Linked DNA regions of Homo sapiens: region 1 is linked to region 2. Evidence: fine-mapped expression QTL. Tissue or cell type: ovary. Region 2 holds a variant in brackets; the other region holds the start of a gene. All regions are shown on one strand. Distances are between the middles of the regions.

The links. PIP is the estimated chance that this variant, and not a neighbour inherited with it, causes the effect.
Region 1: PLPP2 starts here. The variant in region 2 is fine-mapped to the expression of PLPP2 in ovary (GTEx, PIP above 0.99).

What each region holds. Positions count from the first base shown.
Region 1 is chr19:289,116-294,453 of GRCh38, forward strand. PLPP2 (phospholipid phosphatase 2) reads right to left here and starts at 2,288. Exons shown (of 6, transcript NM_003712.4): 1 at 2,170-2,288. The coding sequence starts at 2,221. RefSeq lists enhancers at 786-1,484, 941-1,454, 1,485-2,182, 4,882-5,338.
Region 2 is chr19:313,378-318,739 of GRCh38, forward strand. MIER2 (MIER family member 2) reads right to left here. Exons shown (of 14, transcript NM_017550.3): 8 at 115-266. Among named protein-coding and RNA genes, the nearest start is that of PLPP2, 25 kb to the left of the region's middle. The variant G/A (reference allele first, on the strand shown) is at 3,008.

The sequences.
Region 1 (5,338 bases), 24 kb before region 2:
TGAGGGTGGCCAGGGAAGCAGGAGTCATCTACGGAGAACGGGGCAGAGGGCAGGCGCACAACAAAAGCCCGGGTCGGCTAGCCCAGAGACAAACCAAGGCAGGGCATCCTTTGGCCCAGCAGGGCAAGTACAAAAGGGTGTGGCTTTTCTAAGTTCTGAATGTCAGCGGAGGGGCAGGGAGCCCCACACTCCTCCCGACATGCTAACTCCAAGGGCCCTAGGACACCGTACACCTTCCATGCTGGCTAAGTCTGGGGAAATAATCTGGTGAAGAAAACAGAGGCCTGCCTCACCGAGCAAGAAAGGTGAGGGAATGCAGAACAGAATGGGCAGGCCCGGCGTGGTGGCTCAGCACTTTGGGAGGCCGAGGCGGGCAGATCACGAGGTCAGGAGATCGAGACCATCCTGGCTAACACGGTGAAACCCCAACTCTACTAAAAATACAAAAATTATCTGGGTGTGGCGGTGTCCCAGCTCCTCGGGAGGCTGAGGCAGGAGAATCGTTTGAACTCAGGAGGCAGAGGTTGCAGTGAGCCGAGATTGCACCACTGCACACCAGCCTGGCGACAGGGCGAGACTCTGTCTCAAGAAAGAAAAAAAAAGGGCAGCGCCAGGGCCTGGAGGCAGGGCAGGACGGCGGAGAGGGCGGGATGTAAGAACCTGCCTTCTGCTCCCACACAGGAGGGGCTGGAGCTGCTGTGAAGGGAGAGGCCTTGGAGGAGGCTCCTGCAGTTGCCGGCCGGGTGGAAAGTCAGGGTTACGAGATGCCCAGAAGGGAGTGCAGCCCGACCACAGCTCTTATCGGGCGGAGGCTCACACAGGTTAGCCTCCGTTTCCGACCTCCCTGCCCCAGCAACTCCAACTAGAGACGCAGGCACCCCCATAACGACAGGCGCCGGGCTTCCCTCGGCCTGGAAAGCTCTCCCTGGGGTCCCCAAAACAGACACCTTCTCTTCATTTAGCCCCCGGGAGCCCTCCCGCCCTCACACTGCCCTCATGCCAGCATCTGGAACCTCAGTGTTGACTGAACTGTGGTGTGCTCAAGCTTCCAGCATAGAGGTGCACTCGGCCTGGCCACCACCCCTGGCACACAGCAGCAACAGCCAACCCCATCTCGGCTGTACCTCCCGCTGCTGTGTGACCTCCGGCAGGTGACTCAGCACCTCCCTCACAGGCTGTTGTAAGGGAAATGTTTGTTATTTGCATGTTGCTTAGTTCCTGGCATACAGAAAGTGCCACCTAAATGTTTACATAAATAACACCATAGGTGCTCAGGAAATGGTACCACGGGCTGGCAGACACCCACAGGGACTTCTTGCTGTCACCTGGCCCACCCTAAAAAAGGGTCTCCTTCCGGAGGTAAGAGGACTTGGCCTCTGCTGTGAGATGGCAGAGAAGCAGGAAACACGTTGGGGAGGAGGGCACCCCCCAGAGATAGAATTCCAGGGCCATTGTCTGTGCAGCCACAGAGCAAACACTCGGCCTTTGTTCCCGGGACCCTGCGGGAGGGGGGCCTCGGGATGCCCATTCCGCCAGTGTGGCCCGCAAACCCGCCGGACAGGTTTGGTTCTCCTGGCCTCCCGGCCCCCCGCCACCCCGTTCACCCGAAGCCTGGGACCCAGCCTTCATCCCCAGTGTCTCCCCCGCCCGAGCCAGCAGGGCGGCTGGGCCTCCCCGCACGTGCACGGGTTCGAATCCCGCCGACGCACCGGGTGCCAGGACCGAGGGTCAGCCCTCTCCGCGCGCAGCGGGAGCGCCCACCCCAGGGGCGGAGGCGCGGACGTCCTGCCGGGGTAACCCGCGGCCGCCCCCACCTCCCGGGCCCGCGTGACTCACCTCCCAGGCCAGGCGGGGCGGGATGGAGGCGCGCGCGCGGCCCCTCCGCACAGACTTCCTGCTGCCGGGGCGGGGGATGCTGGCCCCGGCTCCCCGGGCCTCTCGCGACCCCCATCCCCCTGGGCCTGGGACGCGGGGACCCCCGAGCCTGGGAGGGCGCGCGCAGTGCGGGGCGCGGAGGGAGGTCTGGTCCTCACGCGAGGTCCCCGCCTCCAGGGTCCTCGGAGGGACGAGGGCGCGCAGCCTCCGCGTTCCCCTGCAAACTTGCGCGCAGCCGGGGGCGTGTCCGTCCCGGGAGGGTCCCCCCAACACCCGGGTCCCCAAGGCTCTTACCGACCAGTAAGCACAGCACGTCGAGCAGCACGAAGACCCACCTCCGCTGCATGGTCCCCGCGACCCCCGACGCCGGTCCCAGCGCGTCCCGTCGCGTCCCGGCCCGGCCGCGGAGTCACGTGGCGCGGAGCCCGCCCCGCGCGGAGAGGAGGGGAGGGGCGGGAAGGGGAGGAGGGGAGGGGCGGGGAGGGCACGAGGGGAGAGGTGAGGAGGGGAGGGGAGGGGAGGAGGGAGGGTTAGGGGCGGGGAGGGGAGGAGGGAGGGGGAGGGGAGGAGGGGAGGGCTAGGGGCGGGGAGGGGAGGGGGGAGGGGGAGGGAAGGGAAGAAGGGGGGGAGGGGAGGAGGGAGGGGGGACGGCAGCGGCGGGCAGGGGAGCAGCGGGGGGGGCGGGGCGCGGCGGACCCGGGACCGCGCGGACTCTGCCCCCGCCTGGCCGCGGCGCCCAAAAGAGCGGGTGGGGCGAGCGTGCGGGCGCCACGGGGACCTCGTCCGCCCGGAGTCCCGGCCCTGACCCGGGCTGTGCGGGTCTCCGAGCGGCGTGAGGTCCTCAGAGGCTGGAGGTTCCCCGCGGGTCGGGCCGGCGGAGCCCCGGGCGGGGACGTGGAGAAGGAGGACGAGCAGCGGCGGGACCGGCCCCGCGGGACGGTTCCCGACTTTCCTCCTCAGGGAGTGGCAGCCGCGCCGTGTGCGCCTGGAAACTCCGACAGCAGGAGGCACCTTAAAGTGGAAGGGGCGACGTGGCTTCATTTCAGGAGTTTCTTTTCTCCTAATACTCAAAATCCTGGCGCGTCCTTGGACCCCTGGCACGTTAGAAGCTCGAGTTCCTCGGCACCCACCTTGCGACGGCGTAGGGTGTCCAGGCGCAGCCCTGTGCCCAGGCACCGTTCCTATCAGCGCACTTGCTGTCCCATTTCACAGAAGAGCACGGGGGCGCCAGGAGCTGGGAACCCCATGAAATGGCGCCGGGGTCTGTGCCCCCACCAGGTCGTGGGGAGCCCTGAGCTGAGGGTGCCTGGGGATTGAGGGCACCTGAGCCAGGGAAACCCAGGCCCAAGGGACCCACACTGGGTCCTTTCGGCTGGGACCATCCGGGAGGCCTCAGGAGTGTCAGACCCACGTTTCCGGAGTCCAGCCTTGACCTCTGCCACTCACGGTCACTTAAATGGGAAGTGGCAGGCCTGGGGTCAGAAACAAGGCTGCTGGGCCCCAGATCCGCTGCCACCCTGACCCTCCTCTAAAACCCGTTCAGCACCACCATCAGCCCCCTGCCCCAGCAACACCAAAACAGGGTGCGTCTCAGCAACTGGACTTCAACTGGGAGCTCCTCGACCCTGCTTCCCGGATGGTCAGACACCTGCACGTGGGGCAGGGGGGCATCATGAGGGAACTCCAAGGGCAAGGGGCTCTTGGGAGACAGCAAAGGCACCCAGAGTGGTGCTGGGTGGGAAGACGGTGCAAGCTGACCTGTGGCCCTCCAAGGGCAGGGTTGAGGTGCTCCCTTGCTGCACTCACGGTGGGGTGGGGGGGCTCTAGCTCCCGTCGGAATTAGGATTGTGAGGGTTCTGGTGCCTAGCATCAATGCTACATAAATGTAGGGTTCAGCGTCACTACTGCGCTTTCCCCCACACTTCACCCTGTCTGCAAATGAGTGACCACTGCTGTCAGTGTAGTCTTGACAGCCAACGCACATTTTCTCCTAAGATGGAGAGGGTGCAACATCTACTGGAGTCAAGGAAAGGCGGTGTTCTTCATTGAGCACCTACTGTGTGCTGGGGAGCAAGGGAGAGGTCACTTGGAGGGGCCTGCCAAAGTGGGAGCGGGGGGAAGACAGTGGGGGCTGTGGGATGGGGCCAAGCCAAGAGGGAGAGACCCAGGAGAGGGGTGGAGGTAGACCTGGGAGGATAGAGGGTGGAGGTGAGGCTGCAGGCTGTTCCCCCTTCCATCCTTCCCCTTGGGTCAGGATTTGGGTTAGCCCTTAAAATCCCTGGGCAGGATAAGGATTAAAATCTGGTGGGGAAAGCAAGAATTAGGATTAGGGTCAGGATTGGGGTCGTCTCCTACATATGCTGACTGCAGCCCACCACACTTCAAGGAACTTCTTGTCACGGCTTTCATAGCTGGATCTGCTGCTGCCCCCAGCTGCCTGGTCCTCCCTTCCAGGAAGAACCTGAGGCCAGGGCAGCTCCCAGCAGGGACAGAGCCTGGCCTGGAGGCCAGGCCTCAGTGGCTTTCTCCTTCACCTGCAAATAGCAGAGCTGGAAGCGGGTGGTGGTACATGTACCCAGGCTGGGTCCCCTAGAGACAAGCAACCCCTGAGGGCCAGGTCGCCACTCCCAGGCAAGCAAGCTCACGGGTTCAGCAACTGCAGCTCCCGCCTCTTGCCCAGCACTGGCTCTGCCACCTTGGTGCCTCATCGCAACCTGGATGGCTCCGGGCCTGTTTCCAAATGGACTCTATGGAGACTAAGACACCTGTGAAGTGGGCAGAAGGGGGCCTGGCACACAGTAGGTGCCACCTAAGTGCAGCCAGCCACTATACCTGCCGTTGCTTTCTCTGCTTCTCTGGGACTTGAGAGGTGAAGTACCTTGCCCAGAGTCAAAACGGGAGTTGTCTCCCAGGTTCCTGGCACGGGGCTCTTGGAGTCGAACGAGTGCCCGTCAGTGGGTTTGACGTGCAGGCAGTGGGCAGGGAAGGCTGAGGGGGTGGATGGTTTGGAAAGACATCTAAGGTATCCCTCAGTCTCTGTCTGCATAAAGGCGGCAAGACAGTAGCTACCACCTGGGATTGTAGAGAAGATTAAATAGTTTGTGAAATGCTTGACCCAGGGCCAAACATTAGGAAACATCATTTGAGGGTTAATTGAACAAAATACAGTGTGGGTAGGTATCACGTGTTTGCTGGGTCAAGATGTAGAAGGTACTTCTTCCTGGGGTCAAGATTTAAAAGGGTTGGAAACCGCTGCCTTCAAATTCACAATCCAGGACCCACGAATTCAAAATTCCCCTCGGACTTTGCAATCCTTGGAGTGCCTCTTAATTTAGTGTAACCTTACAGTCAGTCAGGGACAGGGTAACCCTCCGGGTTTCAGCACCGCGAGTCTGCTGTGCTCTGTCTGTGAGGAGGTCTTCACTGGGTCACAGCAAAGAAAAACACACAGCAGTAGTGCTGG
Region 2 (5,362 bases):
CTGACCCCTGCCCTCCCCTCTGCCCTCCCTGGCCCCTGGAGGCACTGGGGTGTGAGCTCTGGCCCACGCCACGGCAGCCCTCAGCCCCTCTGTCCCCGGCATGGCAGCCCCCACCTGCTCACTGTCTTTCACGGCTTCTCCCTCTGGGAGCTGAGGCCCGGCCATCTCGTGCCAACGCCGCTTCACCGCCCTGTACAGGAACTCCTCCACCTCCCTCTCAGGGAGGACGCTGGGGTCCCAGAGCAGCTGGTCTTCGTTCTCGTAGACTGCACAAGCAGAGGGCAAAGGTCAGCTTGCAGGAACCCAATCTGCACCCACACACGCCAGGACAAGCAAAGCAGCCAACTCAGCCCCTGACAGGGAGGAGGCACTGTCCGTCCTCCCTTTCCCAAGCCCTGGGCCGCCATCCCTGTGCTCCTCCTGGGCTTGGTGCTGCTGTGCTCAATTCAACTACCGAGTGGGTCCAGAGCAGGCTCTGGGCACCACACACAGGCCTGTATCCCAACGACCAAGTGCAGGGAGCCATGAGCAGTCAGCAGGGGCGCCTGATCCAGCCAAGGGGTCAGAGGAAGCTGTGGACAGCCTAGATCTGGGGCAGGGGAATTCTAAGCAAGGACTCTGCAGAGGGGGTTCTAAGTAGTGAGACCAGTGAGGTGAGGCTGGCTTCAGGCTGCACAGCTACAAGGGCACCTGAAATGCAGAGGCCTGAGGGAGCAGCAAGGACGCCCCCGACTCTGCATAAAGGCAGCTGAGACTTGGGCCCGTGGACAAGCGGGAGCCCCCACAGTTAGGCACTGTCGCGCTCTAACCCTGGGAGCTGAAGAGCCACGGCCAGAAGGTGCATCACCTCTGGGGAGACATCCTGCCCCCGGTAGCTGGTGTGGATGGCAGATGTGCTCACAGAGGGGAGGAAAAGTCCACGACCTCAGATGCAATTGGCTTTCGGCAAAGGGAGGGACGCAGCCTCCAGCTGTGGTGAGGGACGTGACTGGGGACAAGGCAGGGGAGAGCTCAGGGCCAGGTCTGGCAAGGCTCAAGTGCCAGCACCTCTCAATTATCCAGGAAAGAGGCACAGGATCCCAAACAAAGCAAACCAACAAATAAAAAACAAAATCAGTGCACGGGAAGAAATGTGAAAAACGCACTGGGGAAAACAGCTCCACACGGGAGTCTCCACTGCCGGGGGCTGACGCGGTAACTAGCTCCCAGGTTGGTGCTGTGCCCCACCAAGCAGGGGCCTCTCCCGGTCCTCATGGCCATGAGGAAAACAGGCAGACACCACAGCCACCTTTCTCCATCTCCACAGGCGACACCTGAGCCCTGCTTGGACAGAGGTGGTCTCCAAGAAAACAGCAGACCATCTCTGGAGAAAAAGAACACCACATACAGCCTAGCATGTGAAGGGTGGGAAAACACGAGGGAAAAACATTAACCGGATGTGAGGGCTCATGTCTGTAATCCCAGCACTCTGGGAGGCTGAGGTGGGAGGATCGGTTGAGGCCAGAGTTTGAGACTCGCACACTCCATCTCTACAAAAAATTTCAAATGTAGTACAGGCACGTCTGTAGTCCCAGCTACGGTGGGATTGAGGCTAAGGTGGGACTGAGCCCAGGAGGTCGAGGTTGCAATGAGCCATGATTGCACCACTGCACTCCAGCCTGGGAAACAGAGCAAGACCCTGTCTCAGAATAAAACAAGAAAACAAGGCCAGGCGTGGTGGCTCACGCCTGTCATCCCAGCACTTTGGGAGGCTGAGGCGGGCGGGTCACCTGAGGTCAGGAGTTCGAGACCAGCCTGGCAAACATGGCGAAACCCCAGCTCTACTAAAAATACAAAAATTAGCCGGGCGTGGTCATGGGCGCCTGTAATCTCCGCTACTCGGGAGGCTGAGGGAGGAGAATCACTTGAACCCGGGAGGCAGAGGTTGCAGTGAGCCAAGATCGCGCCACTGCACTCCAGCCTGGGCGAGAAGAGCGAGACTCCGTCTCAAACAAACAAACAAAACAAGAACACATCAGACAACAAAGCAGGTCTACACACAGCCGATGTTAAGAGTCAGCACACGAAGACTTCAATCTAACGAGGATTAATACGTTAAGGAAATGGACAAAACGCCGGAGAGTCTCAGCAGAGACTTGAAATTTATAGAAAAGAATCTCAAGGACCTTCCAGGACTGGATAATACAATACCCGAATGGACCCACTGAACAGCTTTTTTACCAGCAGCCTGAACACAGCACAAAACACAATTAGTGGAATCAAAAGGAAACCAATGTTTACAAGACCAAAACCAAAGTGTAAAAGGAAAGAACACCGTTTAGGGTAGTACAAGACAGTGAGGCAACCTCTAAGATACGTGTAAATGAGTGACAGAGAAAGCAAAGAAGGAGGCAGCACAAAATCTGAAGAGGTAACAGCCAAGAATTCTTCAAAACTGACGACTGATACCAACCCACAGAGCCAGGAAACTCAGGACGAATACAAGGACACACGAAGACGTGTGCACAGGCACAGGAGAGCCAAACTGGTGAAAAACAAACAAATAAAGGAAAGGAAACAACTCTTAGGAGAGAAAAGGGCACAATGACTTCAGAAGAAAGAGTAAGACCGTCCTCTGACTTCTCAACAGAAACGATGACAGCCAAAACGCAATGGAGTGAAATTTTTCAAGTGTTGAAAGAAAACACCCTGCAAACCTGGAAAAACATGCCATGAAAATATGCTTTAAAGAATGAAAGCAAAAATCCAGGCTTTTCAGACAAAAAAATGCTGAAAGAAAGCACAAGGCCTATTACAAAGGAAGTTCTTCCGGCTGAAGGAAATGATTCCAAATGGAAGCTGGAGGAAATATGTGGATAGGATAAATACAAAGAATGTTCACTGTTTAAAACAACAATGTTATCATCTTGTGATATGTAGATTTTTTTTTTTTGGAGATGGAGTCTTGCTCTGTCCCCCAGGCTGGAGTGCAGTGGTGCGATCTTGGCTCACTGCAACCTCCATCTCC[G/A]GGGTTCAAGCGATTCTCCTGCCTCAGCCTCCCGAGTAGCTGGGACTACAGGTGCCCACCACGCCTGGCTAATTTTTGTATTTTTAGTAGACACAGGGTTTCACCATGTTGGCCAGGCTGGTCTCAAATTCCTGACCTCAGGCAATCTGCCTGCCTCGGCCTCCCAAAGTGCTCGGATTATAGGCATGAGCCACCACAGCCGGCTCATATGTAAAATTAACGATAGCACAAAAGGCAGGGGGCAGGTAAATTGAGTTAAACTGTTTCTTGCATTGTAGGGGAACTAGAATGTACTTATTTCAAGCTGTGAGGCCCGGTGTGGTGGCTCACTCCTGTAATGTCAGCACTTTGGGAGGCTGAGGTCACTGGAGGTCAGGAGTTCAAGACCAGCATAGCCAACACAGTGACACCTCATCCCTACTAAAAATACAAAAATTAGCTGGGGATGGTGGCGTGTGCCTGTAGTCCCACCTACTTGGGAGGCTGAGGCAGGAGAATCGCTTGAGCCCAGGAGGCGGAGGTTGCAATGAGCCGAGATCACACCACTGTACTCCAGCCTGGGCGACAGAACAAGACTCTATCTCAAAAAAAATGTAGACTGTGATAAGTCAATAATTCATGTTGTAACCTCTAAAGCGCTAAAACTAAAACTTATAAGCTGAAACAGAAGGACAAAATAAACCTATTAATCCAAAAGAAGATATAAAAAAATTAAAAAACAAACAACAGGCCAGGTCCAGTGGCTCACGCCTGTAATCCCAGCACTTTGGGAGGCCGACGTGGGCGGATCACGAGGTCAGGAGATCGAGACCATCCTGGCCAACATGGAGACAACCCATCTCTACTAAAAATACAAAATTAGGCCGGGCGCGGTGGCGGGCACCTGTAATCCCAGCACTTTGGGAGGCTGAGGCGGGCGGATCACGAGGTCAGGAGATCGAGACCACCCGGGCTAACACGGTGAAACCTCGTCTCTACTAAAAATACAAAACATTAGCCGGGAGTCATGGCGGGTGCCTGTAGTCCCAGCTACTCAGGAGGCTGAAGCAGGAGAATGGCGTGAACCCGGGAGGCGGAGCTTGCAGTGAGCTGAGATCGCGCCACTGCACTCCAACCTGGGTGACAAAGCGAGACTCTGTCTCAGAAAAAATAAATAAATAAATAAATAAATAAATAAATAAAATAAAAATACAAAATTAGCCAGGCATGGTGGCGGATGCGTGTAATCCCAGCTACTTGGGAGGCTAAGGTAGGAGAATCACTTGAACCCGGGAGGTGGAGGTTGCCGTGAAGTAAGATCGCATCACTGCACTCCAGCCTGGGCAATGAGAGTGAGACTCTGTCTCAAAAAAAAAAAAAAAAACAAACAAACAAAAAACAAAGAACAGATGGAACACACAGAAAGCAAAGAGCAAGATGGTGGCATTACACAATTGTTTTATAATTACATGACATACAAGTGATTTAAAAAATGTACATGGACTAAAAAGTCTATTAAAAGACAATGGTTTTCTCAGACAATTAAAAATAAGATCTAGGTCGGACACAGTGGCTCACACCTATAATCCCAGCACATTGGGAGGCCGAAGTGGGCAGGTCACTTGAGGTCTAGAGATTGAGACCAGCCTGGCCAACATGGTGAAACCCCATCTCTACTAAAAATACAAAACTTAGCTGGGCATGGTGGCGGACGCCTGTAATTGCAGCTACTTGGGAGGCAGAGGGGGAAGAATTGCTTGAACCCGGGAGGCGGAGGCTGCAGTGAGTGGATATTATGCCAATGCACTCCAGAGACTCCGTCTCAAAAAACAAGATCTAAACATGTGCCATTTACAGAAAATACACTTCAAATATAGGAATCTAGAATGGAAAAAAGAATGGGAAAAAACCATGCAAACACTAAACAAATCAACAAAAAGCTGCTGTGGTCACACTGATGGCAGATTAAGTACTTATTTACGGTAAGAAGTGTTACTACAGAGAGACACGTCACAATGGTAAAAGAAACAATTCAACACAAAGACAAAGCAATCTTAACGTGTATGCACTTAACACAATGTGAAGTAAAAATGGACAGCATTAAAAAGGGGAAATAGACAATCCACAATCAGAGGAGGTCATTAACAATCTTTCAGTAAATAGAACAAGCAGCCAAAAAAATTAAGTGAGAATACAGATGATGTGAACAACAATTATCCAGCGGATCCAAGGGAATACACGGAAAATTCCACCCAACAACAGCACAGCACACTCTCTTCAAACACGTACAACATTTACCAAAACAGATCAAATAATGGACATAAAGCGAGGTGCAACTAATTACAAAGAACTGAAATCACGGAGTATGTTTTCTGA